3 separate regions of the Homo sapiens genome follow, and all the other regions are linked to region 1. The links come from fine-mapping of genetic effects on gene expression. A gene starts in region 1. Each other region holds a variant in brackets. All regions are shown on one strand. Distances are between the middles of the regions.

Region 1 (5,223 bases):
CACACACACACACACACACACACACACCATATTTTCTTTATCCATTCTTTTTTTTTTCTGGACACCTGGTCAACCTAGCATTTTACCTAAAGGCTAGGCAAGGGCCAATGGAGGCAGAAGGCCAAACCAGTCACAGTGGGGCCAGGGATAGGAATAAGGCAGCAGCGTGGGGGTGGAAATAGAAGAAAACTTAGGTAATTTGATCCCCAAGTGGGAGAACATGACCCCTGTCCTTGAAAATGCTGCTACTTTCAGCGGTGCTGCCGCTTGCTGCCCCTGTGCTGGGACTGACAGGCCTTGCGCTCTCCAGTCCCACTAAGAAAGCAAATTGGATTGGTCACTTCCCTGTTTAAACCTTCCAAGGCCCTGCATTGTTCTCAGGATGAAGTCAATTCTCCTTTCTCTGGCTGAGTCCTGGCTCCTCCTCAGCCCATCACTGCTACTTGCCCTCATCTCTCTGTGCCCACCGGCCACCCTGCCTTCCTGCAGATCCTACCGCCTGCGGTGTTCTTTCACCAGCCTGTCCTCTCTGCCTGCAATGCTCATTCCCTGCCCCCATGTTCCCTAGCAAACTCTCCTGCGACCGTTAAATTACAGCCTAAAAACATCCGCTTCTCTTTTCCCCTGGGGGCTGCCAGTTCCCTGGGGTAGAGTTCAGTCTGTTGTGTCCAAAGCCTAGCCAGTAGATGCTCCCATGTTTGTTGAATGAACAGAAGTTGGGACGGGAAACCAACAGACGCTCAGGACTGGGGTTTGTTTTTGTTCCTGTAAAACTGGATTGGTTCTGCAGAGGCACAAACAAGCCCGTTGATTTAGATCTATCGAGGAATTGGGGTAGGGGCAGGGGTGGCAGTTTTGCTAAGAAGAAAAGCAGGTGAAAGTGGGAGATTCCAAAAGAGACCAGAGAGAAGGCAGTGTGTCCTGCCCAATCTGCCGCTAGGGTCAGAGACCAGCTCCCTAGTCACACTCGGCCAAGGCAGGCTGCCGGGCTGACTCCAACTCTAAACAAAGCCAGGCAGCCGCCCAGGTGGGTGAAGGCTGCAGATTGCGCTCAGGCGTGACGCCGGGGTGCAGGTGGGAGCGACGCCCGGGTGCGTGGGTGCAGCGCTCGCCCGCCCGCGGTTAGGCGCACCGCGGGAACCGGTCAGGTGCGCCGTGTGGGGCGGGGCGGAGGCAGGGCGTGCGCCCCCAGGCTGGTGCCTGGGGCAGAGGATTCGCCTGCTTGACGCGCTGATGCCTTGATTTGGTCTGACAAGTGGAGGCTGCTTTGAGAAGCGGCCTGTATTTTTGACATTCAGGAAGCTAGAAATAACCAGCTGGGCTCCTGGCGCTCTGGCCGCAAATGTCTTGCGCTTTCCAGGCAACTGCCAGATTGAAGGGGCTTTTCCCCAATGTAGACCTGTGCTCTGTGTGCTAGGAGGCCGAGGTTCCAGTCCAGGCTCGGCTTCTGACTCCCTACTTTAGGAGGAATCACTGAATTGACTGCAGCTCGGCTTCTGCTCTGTAAAATGGGGCTGTTGCTAGCTGAGCCTCTTCTGCCTCTGGTAGAAAATGATTCCAAGTGGCTGCCCTGTCCACCCTAATCCCATGGCCCGAACTTGATGTCTGCTGCTTCTAGAAGCCTAGTGCTCCAAATATCTGCTCTGGGAGGGACTTGCAGATGATCCTGATTGGAAATGAGGCTGATTAACCTTTTGTGTATCATTGACTCTAGGACAATCTGTTGAAACCTAGGGGCTCTTACCCTAGACAAATTAACACACCAGCCAGATACAGCTTACAAGGGCAGAGAGTTGCTGGTTTGAACCACAGACCCCTGGTTTAACATCTGTAATCTAGTCAACCCCTCCTCTTTCTTGAAGGCTGAACCAAACACGAAGGGTTTTCCCCACCTTCCAATCCTCATACATGCAGACACCCCCTTTTCCTGCTTTCTCCTTCAGTCATCTTCCTCACCATCCCCCATGCTTGGGCACTCTCAGGAGGGAAATTGTCCTATAAATATCTGTAAAAGGCATGGTATGTCCTGTAGCAGAGAAAGCAAAAAATAAAAATATAATTCCTCCACCCCTGGCATGGCACGTGCAGAGCTCTGCCTGATCCTTCTCTCCCACAAGCCTCGGGGGTGGGTAAACAAAAGTGAGAGGTGAAGCTGCTGCAGCGAAGTACCCCTTCAAAATCTTCAGTACCCTTCAGAGCCAGCGCTGTCATCACTATCACATAAACTGTACAACTCCAACGTCAACCAGCAGCCGCCTGGCTGGCAGCAGGAAGAGCCAATGCAATTTTGCACAGTGGCTTGCTTGCCCAAGGTATTGCCTGGCAAATGGGCTTCTTGTGCAATGGGGAACCACAGGGAGGGGCCTCTTAAATGTACCTCAAAGAAACAGCTCTAACAATGGATGATTCAACAGGCTAGTAATTGGCGCTCACTCTTACCACATTGTTTTGATAAAACGACATAGCCCAACTGGGGATATGAAGGCAGTAAGTAGAAAAGCTAACCTCTTGCTACTCAAATTGTGGCTGAGAACCAGCGACATCCCATCACCAGAAGCTTTATAGAAAAGCCAGGCTCTGTCCCAGACCTATTGAAAGGAGATCTGCATTTTAACATGATTGCGAGAGGATCCACATCTTAAAGTTTCAGAGGCCTAATCCAAAGTCTTCTGATAATGATCATTAGAGTCCCAGCCACCCCCGACTTCCCCCTGGGAAAACCACAACAAATAGAACAAATTCCTCCAAGCTCTGCTCATAAGAAGAACCCACAACCCACAGACACCCCCTCACTCAACTAGAGACCTCACCCACCTGTTTGCAGAGTCACCCACCTTGGGCTACTTCTTTTCTACTATTTAATCTTCTGGGAAAACAGAGGTCTTCTATTTGGAGATAAAAATGACAAAGGAGAACCTCCTGAACAGCATCCAGTTTGCTTTTAGCTTTAGCCATCTCTCTGACCTCAGTGCTGCTGGACTCAGTTCCAAGATCTAACTGTCAAATGCTTTAGGGGAAACGGGAAGAGAAGTCCCTGGAGTAACCCATGTGCGCAGCCTGGCACTGTTTTCACTTGCCTTTGGAAATGAAGGTGCAGAAACCATGGGAGGTAAGGAGGGCACAGACTAGTGACTTCCAGTGTGGGACAGAGGGGAAAAGATGGAAGAGAAGTGCAGAAAACCACTCGGGAAAAGACAGGCTGGAGTGATGCCTGCTGAGACAGGGCCCTGATCTCCCAGGACTTCCCTTTCTGCCTGTTCTGTAGAAATGTCTCGGGTTTTGTGGTTTAGGAAAAGAGATGCTTAGCAAGCTTGTAGAAAATGTAATGTGGGCACTTTGTTGCTGTCCTGGCTTTTAAAGGACTCTGAAGCAGATCAGCTTCAAGGTATTGGCTATTCTGTTTGCAGCCTTAGAAAGACATCCTTGATGTTTTATTGTTCTGCCTTTGCTAAGAGCTGGAAACTCTCCCTGGGGAAATGGCTCACCTTGAAAGAGATGCTATCGTAGCTGAAAATGTTTTAGCTTCACTTCCAATCTCTGGTTCCTTGTGGGAAGTAACTGCTGCTGTGGTATATATGCCCTGTGCCTTTTATTTTTACCATCTTTACCTCGGTGGACACAGCTGGTTGAAACTCAGTAAAACTTATGCTTCCATGGAGATTGATTCAGACAACAGGAAAAATAAGTGTAGAAAAAAACTGCACAGTACAAGGGCTAGATTCAGGTTGTAGAACAAAGTGATTATTACTTAGAATCCTGGATTAGCAAGAGAATAAGAAAGATGCTGAGATTACCTAGTGTTATCACCATCCACGTGAAACGTAGAATAAAACTTTTTCCCCACCACATAGATATTGGGCAGTTTATTATAGATGCTACAAAGGGATTTATTATATTTTTCCCAAAATGGTTAATTAGAGGCATCCCAAATTACAACTCCTTTAGCATAACTCCCAGCTCCATGCAGCCTACTTACTAAGGACCCAGCTACTGACAGCTCAGCTCTTTGCCAATCCAACTTTTTTTCCCCATATGCTCAAACTTTTCTTCTCCAAGAAGACTTCCTGAATGATCCCAATTCATAGGGATCTCATCCTTAATGCAGGGGAAATTCACTGTTCTGGAGTAGTCTACCATACCATCACGCTCTTCTTTTTGTGTAATCCTGGATTTCTTCTCCAGTTGTTTTATTCTTGCCTGTCTACACAGATAGATCAGTAGCCTTCAATAGTCTGCATCTCCTGTTATCTTGCAGCCTCCTACTATAAACAGTAGGTGCTTTACTTATGCCAGTTGGGTTGACCTAGACAGTAGTCTCTAAGTAGCAGTCCTTGGCTCATCCTTCTGAAACCAACGAGCTCTTAGGCAGGCTGAGAAAGGGTTAGGACTGTTCACTCTGGGACATCCTTGGCTCTGTATGAGTGTTGTTTTTAAAAGCAGGGATTTTGTCTCCAGTGCATTGAAGAGATAAAACCCCATTGTCAGCATATTTCTTCAGGATCTTTCTGTGTTAGATCTCACTGCCAAGCCAGAGTCCCCACACACAGACTCTCACTTTTCCCCCATCAATAGGCTGAAGTGAGGCAAGTAGTAGAATGTGCTCAAATCATGGCCTATTCTTAATAAAAGAAACAAGGACAGCTTGGGGCTGGCTCGTCTCTTCTCAAATTCTCCTAGTGTTCTGAACCAAATGTATGAAACGAATAGATTTGTTTTATTCGCAGGTATTAATGCTTCTCCGAAAGCAGTTGTTTGGGTGGCTGGAATATCAGTAGTCATTGACCAATAAGGCTTGCAGGTGTGAATCAGAGCAGTATTCTGGACTTCCAGAGTAGAGCTGCCATCTACTACTCTACATCACCTTCATCCTTACAGAATCACTGAGACCATTCATTCATTCACAAGCAGTTGTGTCTGCTACATGCCAGGCACTTGTAGTAGGCATTAGAGATACAATGGCAAGTGAAACAGACACTGCATGTAATCTACTGAGAGAGACTGGGAATTAATTCAATAAGTAAAAGTAAGTATATAATTATCAATTGTGATAAAGGCCCTGAAGCAAAAGAATAGGATGTTCTACAAGAATATTACAAGAGCTTTATCTGATCTAACGTGTATGGGGAGGGGAAGCCTCAGGGAACGCTTCTTAGGGGAAGTGACATTTGAGCTGAGCGTTGAAAGAAGAATAAAAATTAAAAAGTACAGAGGGGGCCAGGTGCA
Region 2 (5,223 bases), 93 kb before region 1:
GGGGAGGGATAGCATTAGGAGAAATACCTAATGTAAATGACGAGTTGATGGGTACAGCAAACCAACATGGCACATATATACCTATGTAACAAACCTGCACGTTGTGCACATGTACCCTAGAACTTAAAGTATAATTTTAAAAAAATTTTTTAATAGTTTGGGAAGAAATTGTGGGCATGTCATTTGCTTGAACAGATTTTGTTCCCCAGCCAGAGGACCAGAGAAGAGTTTGTCATGGCTACAGTGGAGGAATCAAACTCAGAATAGCATGTGAAAGGCACATTCCACACAGAAACTTCGGCCCGTGCATCAGCACTGCAGACAGGGGGAGAGGAAATGAATTCTCAGCCAGTAGATTCCCAGGCATCACCTTGAGGCAGATATGGCATATTCTTGGCCATAGTCTCTACTTCTCTAACTGGGCAAAGTGTCTAATCAACTATAACCCAAAATATCTTCCCACATGGCATAAGTGTCGAATTCATACATAGATCAGAGGGAGAAATGAAATTGTGGTTGTCTTAAAAGTTTACACAGTTTAGGGATCTCCATCATGAAAAATGATCTAAATAAATGAAATGGTATTTTTACTCTTTATCCTACAAGCCCTATACAAACTAAGTCCATAAATATCCTATTTGATGCTTAAACCAAAAGCTTTATAAAGAGAATTTCACTATGTGAAATAATGACTTGAAGAAATCCTATTGTGGATGCTTTTGTTAAGTTGCTAAACCTTTTTTAAAAAGTAGATAATCATCCAAGATATCTTCTTTGTGACTCTTAAGTTTTAGTGTATTTCAAATGTGGATAGTTTTTGACTAGGAGGTTTGTTCAAACGTTCTTCTCGACCACTAGGGGGTGCTCTAAAGGTTAGTGATGTCTAAATGATTGACCAATCAATTAAAACACCGTGCCCAGTTAGCAATCATCTCCACTGAGAGATGCCTGCTTTACCAGGCTAAAAAAATGATCTTTATCATGGCATAGAGACTATAAAAGCTGTGTCCTTTTATTTTCATTAACCTAATTAGAAGTCAAGCTAATTGTAGGACTTCATAGAACTGGCATCGGGAATAGCATGCAACTGTTAAAAAAATCATGGTCTTGATGACTAATTATATCAGGAAATAATATGCAATATAAATGAAAAGAGAAGTGTATGTTTTTTACTTTTTCCTTTCTGTTTTTAAAACATGCTATAAAATGTTAAGTATAATTAGGACACAAAGGAAAAATTAAATCTAGTTAACATTACCTTGAAAACTTCTTATTTGCCCTGAAATCTCCAGTTCTTTGGAAGCTAAAAGCTTGAGACTTCTATATCTGGTTGTCAGGATTAGGGTGATTTTATTTGAATTTTCTTTATTTTCTTCTCAATTTTCTATCTATTTACTTTGTAATTACATTTGAACTATGGATATGTAATTAGTTTTATAAATAGAAAAATCAAAGCTTTATAAAGGAAAATATAGCATCAGCAGACCTGATTGTCCTACTTAACTCTTCCACAAACTGTTTTAACTATGGGCAAGGTACTTCACTTCTTTGCCCTTTGCTTCTGTAAAATGGTTGGGTGAAACGAATCTTGGCAGTTTGTTCCAGCTCTTCTAAAGTTCCATTTTAAATTTTACCAGGAGACAAAAATGGTTCCTATTATGTTCACTCTTGAAGCATTTATTAACCCTCACAATTGGCCAGGCACTGTGCTTGGTGCTATTAAAGATATCTCACTTAGTATCTGGGCTCTGCCTTCAAGGGTTTCCGGTCCCCCATGGAAAAGAAGACCAAGTGCACAGATCCATCCCAGCCCTACACAATGATACTGGAAAGCTGTATGTGGACCAGAAATGCCAAAGGAGGTTCCATCAGGAAGAGGGGACTTGTGCTCTGACTCTGCTGTACCCCTGATCATATGTTACCACTTATTTATGCTTTAAAGAACATCCTGGCCTGGATGTTTCACAGTGTGTTAAACTGCAAGGTAGATTTCCTCTTTGTTTCCCTGGTCTACTGTATATATGCCAGTAAGCCTTGTCAGGTTTCATTATGAGAGATGGCTATAATGCATCCAGATTACTAGGAAAACACTTGGTCTTTGAAAAGAGCTGTGTGTCCCTCTAGGTTTGAAATGCAAAGTCCTAAGGCTTTGTTATATTCAGGACATATTTCACCTTCCCAAAGACTAGTCTCAGCTCAGACAGGATGTATCTTGCCTGTGGGCTTGACACAGGGGTTGCTGGGTGATTGAATTAACCTCTGACATCTTCTGGGCTGTGCAAAATGATAAGTTCAAAAAAAAAATGCAGCCATTAGACTCCTTCTCATTGTTTCTTCCTTGAAGCCTTTGTAATCTTTCTTAATGTGGTTAAATTCAAGTTATTTCCAGTTCAGACATGGTGCAATCAGATTTCCTCATGCGGGTGCTTTTCCACTGTGACCTCTTTGACGTCAGTAACTGTTTCCTGTTTATTTGAACTCCCTGCTCACCCTGTAGATGACTTTGTCTGAGAAAAATAATAAAGCAACGGTACTTAGGAGAAGTTCAACACTGCT[A/G]TCTGTTACGGAGATTTCCTTCTCCTTTCCCCCAGCCGTCAATAGCACTCTGCAGCTTTTCATACAGCATGAGCTTGTTATTCATGTAGAAATACTCCAAGGCAGTTCTTAGAACTTGGGTAAGTAAGAATAGATGTGGCTCCCAGCTTAACATTGCCTTAAAGCAATAGCTACATTTTTCATAACTTTTACGTGTTATGTCTATCTTTGAATTATTTCCAAAAGGTAATCTGCATCCTCACTATAATTCTGAGTATGGTGGCTATTTCCTACTGCCTTGGTTTCTGGAATGATACATCTTCAAATGCAGTCTTTAAATCATAGAGACAACAGATTTTTTCTTTAAATGGAGACAAATCTTTGCAATCTGGTTCTGAGATTGAATCAACTTTATAGAAAGGAAGAATAACTGCTATAAAAAGTCTCGCTTACAGTAATATGTTTTTAGTACATAAGGAGGGCATTTGTTTTGCAATAATAATTATTATAAAGCCCCTAAAATAGAAAATATGAATTACCAGTCAGTGTTAGAAAACTTATCAGAACTGAAACCTTTGTTAGTATGTTTTGGTTATCAAATCTAGTTTTGTAACCCCTTGCTTAGCAAGCATTTCCCAGAAAGAAAAGTCCTTACCCGGTCAAGGCCATTACCATATAGCATCGGGAAACATCCCTGTGTCCCAACAGCTGGGCTAGGACTCCTTCCACCTCCTTCGACCCTCTATACCCTTGTCCCACACTGAGGGTTGGGGGAGCTGCTGCAGTTGCTGTTTCGGCTGCTGTTTCATTCCTGTCCACTTGTGAGTGTGTGTGTACCTCCGCCAGTCTTGGAGGTCTGTGAAGGAGGCCTCGAGACCCAGTGCATGCAGCTCACTGCCACGTGTGCCACAGCCACAGCCAAGGGGCCTTCCTATGCCTCATGCATCAGGCCCTTTGGAGCCCTGGGAGCAGACGGCCATGGCGGCTGAAGCTGCAGTGGATGCACTCATGATGATGAGGATAATAATAGTTGCTAACATTTCTTGAGCATTTCACTTATGGTATGCCAGACACTATTCAAAGCCCTTAGCTTAAATCATTTAATCCTCACAAACCTGTGAGTTGGGTTGTCTTATTATCCCCATTTTGCAGAAGTGAGTTTTGTGAGAGAGAAGCTAAATACAGCACAGCAGGAGTTGCTCTTGGACCTCAAGCATCCTGGCCCAGAGCCCAGGTGTCGCCACTGCCCTGGGCTTCCTCTTAGTCATACCAGGGACTTGGGCACTGGGCACAAAATCTCCTCTTTATATAATGTAGTGGTACCAATAGCTTCTATTGATTGAGATTCTTTTCTGGGCTTGGCACTGTATGAGGCACTTGGCTTCTGGTTTAATCTTTACATGATCACTGTAGTTATAGATGTTATTATCCCAGATTTATAAATAAATAAGGAAACTTCTTACCCCTTAAAAATGGGTGTGTGTGCCATGCATGGTTGCTCACGCCTGTAATCCCAGCACTTTGGGAGGCCGAGGTAGGATTGCTTGAGCCTAGGAGTTCAAGACCAGCCTGTGCAACACAAAGATACCCAGTCTATACAAAAAATTAGCCAGATGTGGTGGCACAAACCTGTGGTCCCAGCCGCACAGGAGGCTGAGGTTGGAAGGATCACTTAAGCCCAGAAGTTCAGCGCTGCAGTGAGCCATGATCCTGCCACTGCCCTCCAGCCTGGGTGACAGAGCAAGACCCTGTCTCAAAAAGAAAAACAAAAATTGTGTGTATTTTAGCTGAAATTCTCCTGGTAGCAGAAAATTTACTTCAGGTAGTAAGAAAACTTTCTTAAGGCTATGCAAAAAAAAGAACTAAAAATAAAGATTCAGAGGTACAACGGATGTCTCATGCAACCCAAGGGCAGGAGTTGGCCAGCTCTCTCGGCTGATCTGAAACCAGAAAGACATGAGGAACCCTGGCAGTTTTGCTCTTGGCTCACTCACCCTCCCTGATCTCTTGTCTCTGCCTCACTCTATGTTTCTGCTTCATTCTTCTCCTTCACCCACCCACCTGTCCATCCACCCACCCAGTCTTTCTCCACTCTCTTATACCCAGGCATTTCCCACGTTTACACTGCAAAAGCAGTTTCCGTTTCCTAACTCATGTTTCCTCAGTTCCTGCACACAGCCTAGACTAAATTAAAAGCTTTTTACCTCAGTTTCAGTTTTCTGGAAAAGAGACTCTGAGCAGGTGCAGCTTGATCTAACTGGCTGTGCACAGATGCTGAGCGTTTACCCATGCGGCCAGGCTGGAGCATGGGTAAATGCTGAGGAAGGGATCACCATGAGCTGAGCAGATGCCTCCAAAGATGTTTGCCCCAGTGACCTTACAGGATCTTGCCCTGCCTGGTCCATGCTCGCTCTCCAGTCACTTTCCTTAGTTAGTATCATCTTGTCACTGGTACCATCCTGGCATAGCACTTTCATCCACCCGGATGTTATGTCTCTTGTTCATACAAATTGCCCATCAGCTTTAACTCCTATCGAACAGCCCTTAATGAGGGGGCCTTAGGGAATGCACCTTACTTATACTGACAGCCATTATTCGGGGGATATTTTTAGCCCCTTGGGCCTGGGGAAGGAATAGTTCTGAACTGATAGCCAGGGCAGAGAGTGGACCCAGACTGCAGCAGGTCAG
Region 3 (5,223 bases), 9.8 kb before region 1:
TCTTCCAGTGAACGGCAATGATGAGAGGTGGTGGCTGGGCTCTGACAGCCTGGGTCCCTGAGTGATTAACATGAATAGGACCCCTAGCTTACCCTCAATGGACATTTTGAATGAGCAAGAAATACTAGTTGCTGTTATGGTTTTTATTACTGCTGTTTCATGGCGCTGAGATTACGATCGGTGTTTGTCCCTGCAGCATAACCTAGCCTATCCTGACTGATAGGCGTGCCATGTGTGGAGGGACCAGTCTGACAACATATGGCTCCCAGGGTTAGAACTAGGAGCACCTCAGGCTGTAGCAGGAGTCATAGAATGTGTTATGGCATAGCATAAAAATGAACTTTTCCACCAAGGTCCCTAAATATGTAATAGACTTCCTTTGGAGGGAAGATCACTGGACATCTTCAGTCTACAACCCTCGTTGGGGATGATGGACCTGGACCGGAGGGCTCTCCCAACCCTGAGAGGCTGGCGTACCACAGTGTGGAATGGGCTTAGCAAGCACACTATTATTGTGGCGTTTGCCCTAGGGGGCCCACTGGGGCAGGCCTGAGTTGGCTTACCATCATGTTTCCACTGGCCACATGCCAGGCCCCTGCTGCTTTCACTGTACCACACAGTCATGAATCTGTGCATAGCATTTCTGGGGGCTCAGCAGGGTGTACAAAAGGCATAGCAGCTCAGATGGCAATGAGATCAAACGAACGGCAAGGGCTCTCTCGGCCCACTCTTATGCAGAATGATAAGTAGTCCTTTGGGGCTCATGCTTGCATCATTAGCAACCTGGAGGCATTAGGAAACCTCTGAAGTTCACCCCTACTGATTTGTCCCTCATTATCCTTATTCTGCCCTCTAGGAACTAGAGCTGAGCACCTTTCCTAACAGTGCTGAATGCCAGTGTAAAGATCTGCTCTGGGGAGGTGTGTGTTCAGAGAAAGCCCCGGTAGGGGGATGAAGGAAAACATGTTTTTAGCATCAAAGACCGGGTTTGAGCACGTGCCCCCTTTTCCAATGGTTGGCTGGAGTTGGATCACACTGGCTCATGAGAGCTGATTGTGCACATCTCTTTCAAGTTAGTGCTCGGAGAGCTCACAGTGGTAGCTTAAAATTGGTTATTGTGGGAATATTTACACCATGGACATTGGTAAGTGTTAAAAGTCAGGCCTTTTTTTTTTTTTTTTTTTTTTGAGACTGGATCTCACTCTGTTGCCCAGGCTGGAGTGCAGTGGTGTGAGCCTAGCTCAATGTAGCCTCAAAGGCCTGGATTTCCTGGACTCAAGTGATCCTCCCACCTCAGCCTCCTGAGTAGCTGGAACTACAGGCTCCTGCACCATGCCCAGCTAATTTTTTTTTTTTTTTTTTTTTTTTTTTTTTGCTTTTGTAGAGATAAGCTATTGCTGTCAACTCAGGCTGGTCTTGAACTCTCTTAGCCTCAAGCGATCCTTCTTACCTGGGCCTCCCAAAGTGCTGGGATTACAGGCATGAGCCACTGCATCCGGCCAGGACTTTTATTAGTTTTATTATTTAGACAGCTTTCCAGCACAACCTTGCAAATAGGGAAATAGTGAGAAAATCATGGTCTTTGGAACCAGGCAGGACCAGGGTCACCCTGACTCTGCTCAGCTGTTGTCATTGAAGGGGGTGTGGAGATACTGAAACTTCCGTGAACCTTAGTTTCCTTGTCTGTAAAATTAAGAAACCTTAGTTTCCTTGTCTGTAAATTAATAACTAAAACCAAAATATTAACTACCTCAAAGGGTAGTGTGAGGATCAAATGCGATAATGTCCACAGATTGCTAACTAAATTAAGCTCCTTCCTTTGGGGCACATAGAGAACAACTTCCAGGGAGAAAAACAAAACACCCCTGAATTGCAGCTTTTTTGCTTTTAGCTGTGGAAAACATTCCCAGAAGCTTCGCAGCCTCGCATCCTCGTACCCCATTGGCCAGTTTAGCGTCACATGACCATCCCTAACACCAATCACTTGGCAAGGGAAAAATGACAGCCAAGCCACAGCTCCTGAGGGAGCCCTGGAGCCCCTGTTGGCGTTAGTGGGATTTTTAACGCCCCCTAGATGGTTCCAATGCGCAGTCAGAATACCGAACCAATGGCTGAGAGTCTAAGTCTCGGACAAAACCTTAGCCCCCGGGGGCTGGAGAGAGGTTCATTCTCTCCTGAAGGACAAGGATAGAGAACCAAGTCAGGGTTCCGGGAGTGTGGGATCGGGGAGGAGGAAGGATCGCTGTTTATCAGGTAATCAAAAGTGCAGACTCACTCTCCATTCCCAGCTACTGGACAATCGTGGGGCAAAGAGCTCAGTGGGAAAAATCAAAGGCATTAAAAATGGTTATTCTTAGAGATAAGGTGTATAACTATTGGAAAACAGAAATAAAGTCTTGAATTAAGCTTTGAGAAATGGTTCTATAATAGTAGGTGGGAGGGAGAGAGTTAAAAAAGC[A/T]TTTGCAACTTATCTGAGAGGGTAAGACATGGCCAGTGATACTTAACTGAAGAGGACTGTTTGCCCTGTCAGTTCTGAAGCTCCTGTTACAGCACTGAGTTAAGCCCTGTGAACACAACATGTGTTTATTTATTGTAGACAAACCCTGCCACAAAGCCACAGGCACAGCACACTTCTCTGTTAGGTCTGTATCTCTTAGAATATTAGGACCCTAACTGGGATTCTAGCAACTTACTTCCTGAGGCTCAGAGCTGCCTCCTGGATTCAGAGAGCCTGTCAACAGCGTCTGCTGAGTATATAACGTGGACTGTGAGAAATATGGACTTGGAATCAGGAGACATGGATTTGAAACTTGACGCATTCATCCTGGGCCGGCTGTTAAACGCTCCCAATCCTTGTTCTCTTCCTCTATTAAATGACAATACTAATAACGATACCCACCTCATAAGATTGTGATGAAGATAAAAAAGGATAAGTTGGCTGGGTGCATTGGCTCACACTCCTAATCTCAGCACTTTGGGAGGCCCAGGGAGAAAATCACGTTAGGCCAAGAATTTGACATCAGTCTAGTCAACAGAGCGAAACCTCATCTCTTCAGAAAACAGAAAAATTGGTCAGTTATGGTAGTGTGTGCCTGTAGTACTAGCTGCTCAGGAGGCTGAGGTGGGAGAATCACTTAAGCCCAGGATTTTGAGGCTGCAGTGAGCTATGATAGCACCACAGCACTCCAGCCTGGGTGACAGGGCAAGGCTGTTTCTTTAAAAAAAAAAAAAGAGAGAGAGACAGAGAATAACTTGTGAACTCTTAATTCTTAATACAAATTACATTTGGTTGAGAGATCAGTATATCCGTATTTCCCCATCTAAAGTTCCCATAGCCATCAGTCAAGGGAGGGAGGAGAAGAAGCACTTTCCAGTTCATCCTGGAGGGGGTGGAGTTCAGACACTGCTTCTAAGAGCAGTCCCCCATCTCTTCACTCACCCTGCTTTATTCCCCAGCCACCCTCACCCTCATTTGATTCCATTTGCCCGGAAGGGATGAGGAAAGTGGAACCAAGGATTTTTATTGTTTGTGTTTCCCACCACTGTCTGTCTCAGAGGCAGAACCTGAGAAGTCTGGAATTTCTCCCTGGTCCTCTCTGCACAGCCCCCAGTGCCACCCGTAAAGATGTCCATTCCAAGTGAAAGCCACTGCACTTCAAAAGCAGCAGAGGTGGGTTCTCCTTCATGTTCCCTGTATGTGAGGGAGAGAACCAAACACCAGGGTCAAACAGAGGCACTTCCAAACCTGTGCCTTATTTCTGGGGAAAAAAAAAAAAAAAGTGAGACTGATTCAGTCTGGGACATGGTAGCTTTCTGTCTCAGAAAGCTGGGCAGGACCAGAGAAAGTGGCTTTGTGAAACGCAGGGACAAAGCTAGCTCAGGGCTCTGCTCTTTCTCAGCAGACCATTAGGGGAATCAGGGCAGGCCTTCCCCTCCCAGCTGACTTGGAGCCACACAGTGGCTTCCATGTGACTCCATGGCCAGTGCGACAAATGCATGGCCTTGGCTGAGGAAGCACAGGGGCTGTGGGGATGACTGGATCCCAGGTCCCAGGAGAGATAGCGAGACATGTTGGAAACACTGTGTCTGGAATCTTGTGCTTGACTGCTCAGGAATGCGTGGTCTGGGTAACTTTCTGGTTTGACTTACAGGAAGGTCTGATGGGGGCAGAGCGGGAATGTTGTAACAGCCCTAGATCACCTTGGAAAAATACTGTTTGCCTGCCAGCCCGGAACTGCCATTCCAGGAAGCAGCTGCTGGTGAATCAGCAGCCTCCTCTTTCCTTGTGGCTCCAGGAAGCACATGAAGGGCCTCCCCCACCTCCTCTCCAGGGAGGGAAATGCCCACTAGCCATATACAGGCTCTTCTGGAAGGGACAGAGGTGGGGACTCCATGGCAGACTCTCCATTCCGCCCCACCCCCCACCCCGCAACACACAAAGGGAGTTGGAAAAGGGATGAGAGACCCCTAAGCCTCAGACTCAGGCTTTTGATGTAGAAAATCATACATGGTTTCTAAGTCTCTTGTCTGGAGTTCACAACAATAAAGCTAGGTAGAAATCTCTACACACTGCTTGGCATGGGTTACATTTGCCTCAACATAATGTCTGTCTCTTACCTGCAGATCCAGCCTGGGGCTGAGAAACTCACAGGAGGTTGTCGGTTGGCTCTGGTCAAGCGGCTGTTTGGGCATGAGTGCCATTTGTACTCAAGGTCAAGGGGCAGCCTTAGTAGGTCAGCTGGAAGAGTCTTGGGAAAAGGTAGGGGGACCGTAATGCCAGCTGTCCATTCCCTCCACGGGCCCTGTGGTGCCTCCACCTGGGTGGAGAGTCCCTGCTTTCTGCCTTTCCATTGGCCAATCTCTGGCCTCCTCCTGAGGTTGCTGCTGTCCCTGGAACAGCTTTGGGCTAGTGGACACAGCAGTTATGCCTCAATTTCCCTATAGCTACATGGAGCCAATTAAACAGTGGACGGATTTGGAGAGGTGGATCATTTCAGATTCGCTCCTGGATTTTCACCCCCACTTAAGAGAGAGCTAAGTCTCCTTCTTTCTTCTCTCTCTCTTTTGCTCTTTTTCTCCTTGTGTGTGTCTGACTCACCTCTGTGCGGTTACATTTAAACACCAGTTTAGATCTCAATGACCCACATTCAGCCTTAGTGACTATGAAAGCAAGGCCATGCTCACTGATGACTCAGGAGAACTGGGGCCTTGAAAGATGAGCTG

Alleles and levels. Positions count from the first base shown, and alleles are read on the strand shown. Sizes are in standard deviations (SD) of each study's normalised expression. Not every link is listed here.
In carriers of allele A in region 3, the expression in fibroblasts of the gene that starts at base 3,002 in region 1 tends to be higher than with T alone (moderate effect, 0.40 SD a copy in GTEx).

The links.
Region 2: its variant is fine-mapped to the expression of LINC01303 in whole blood (TOPMed, PIP above 0.99).
Region 3: its variant is fine-mapped to the expression of LINC01303 in fibroblasts (GTEx, PIP 0.96).

What each region holds. Positions count from the first base shown.
Region 1 is chr14:61,567,652-61,572,874 of GRCh38, forward strand. It overlaps LINC01303 (long intergenic non-protein coding RNA 1303), which reads right to left and starts at 3,002. Exons shown (of 5, transcript NR_110416.1): 1 at 2,835-3,002; 2 at 1,893-2,026. LINC03033 (long intergenic non-protein coding RNA 3033) reads left to right here and starts at 2,889. Exons shown (of 3, transcript NR_039985.1): 1 at 2,889-3,109. RefSeq lists enhancers at 594-1,095, 1,096-1,595 and silencers at 937-1,006, 1,087-1,246, 1,987-2,179.
Region 2 is chr14:61,474,571-61,479,793 of GRCh38, forward strand. All of the region lies in intron 9 of PRKCH (protein kinase C eta), which reads left to right. Among named protein-coding and RNA genes, the nearest start is that of PRKCH-AS2, 68 kb to the right of the region's middle. RefSeq lists enhancers at 2,158-2,257, 2,368-2,447, 3,081-3,140, 4,218-4,387, 4,985-5,154 and a cis regulatory region at 4,303. The variant A/G (reference allele first, on the strand shown) is at 2,557.
Region 3 is chr14:61,557,844-61,563,066 of GRCh38, forward strand. LINC01303 (long intergenic non-protein coding RNA 1303) reads right to left here. Exons shown (of 5, transcript NR_110416.1): 4 at 2,900-5,223. Among named protein-coding and RNA genes, the nearest start is that of LINC03033, 10 kb to the right of the region's middle. RefSeq lists an enhancer at 3,744-4,943. The variant A/T (reference allele first, on the strand shown) is at 2,459.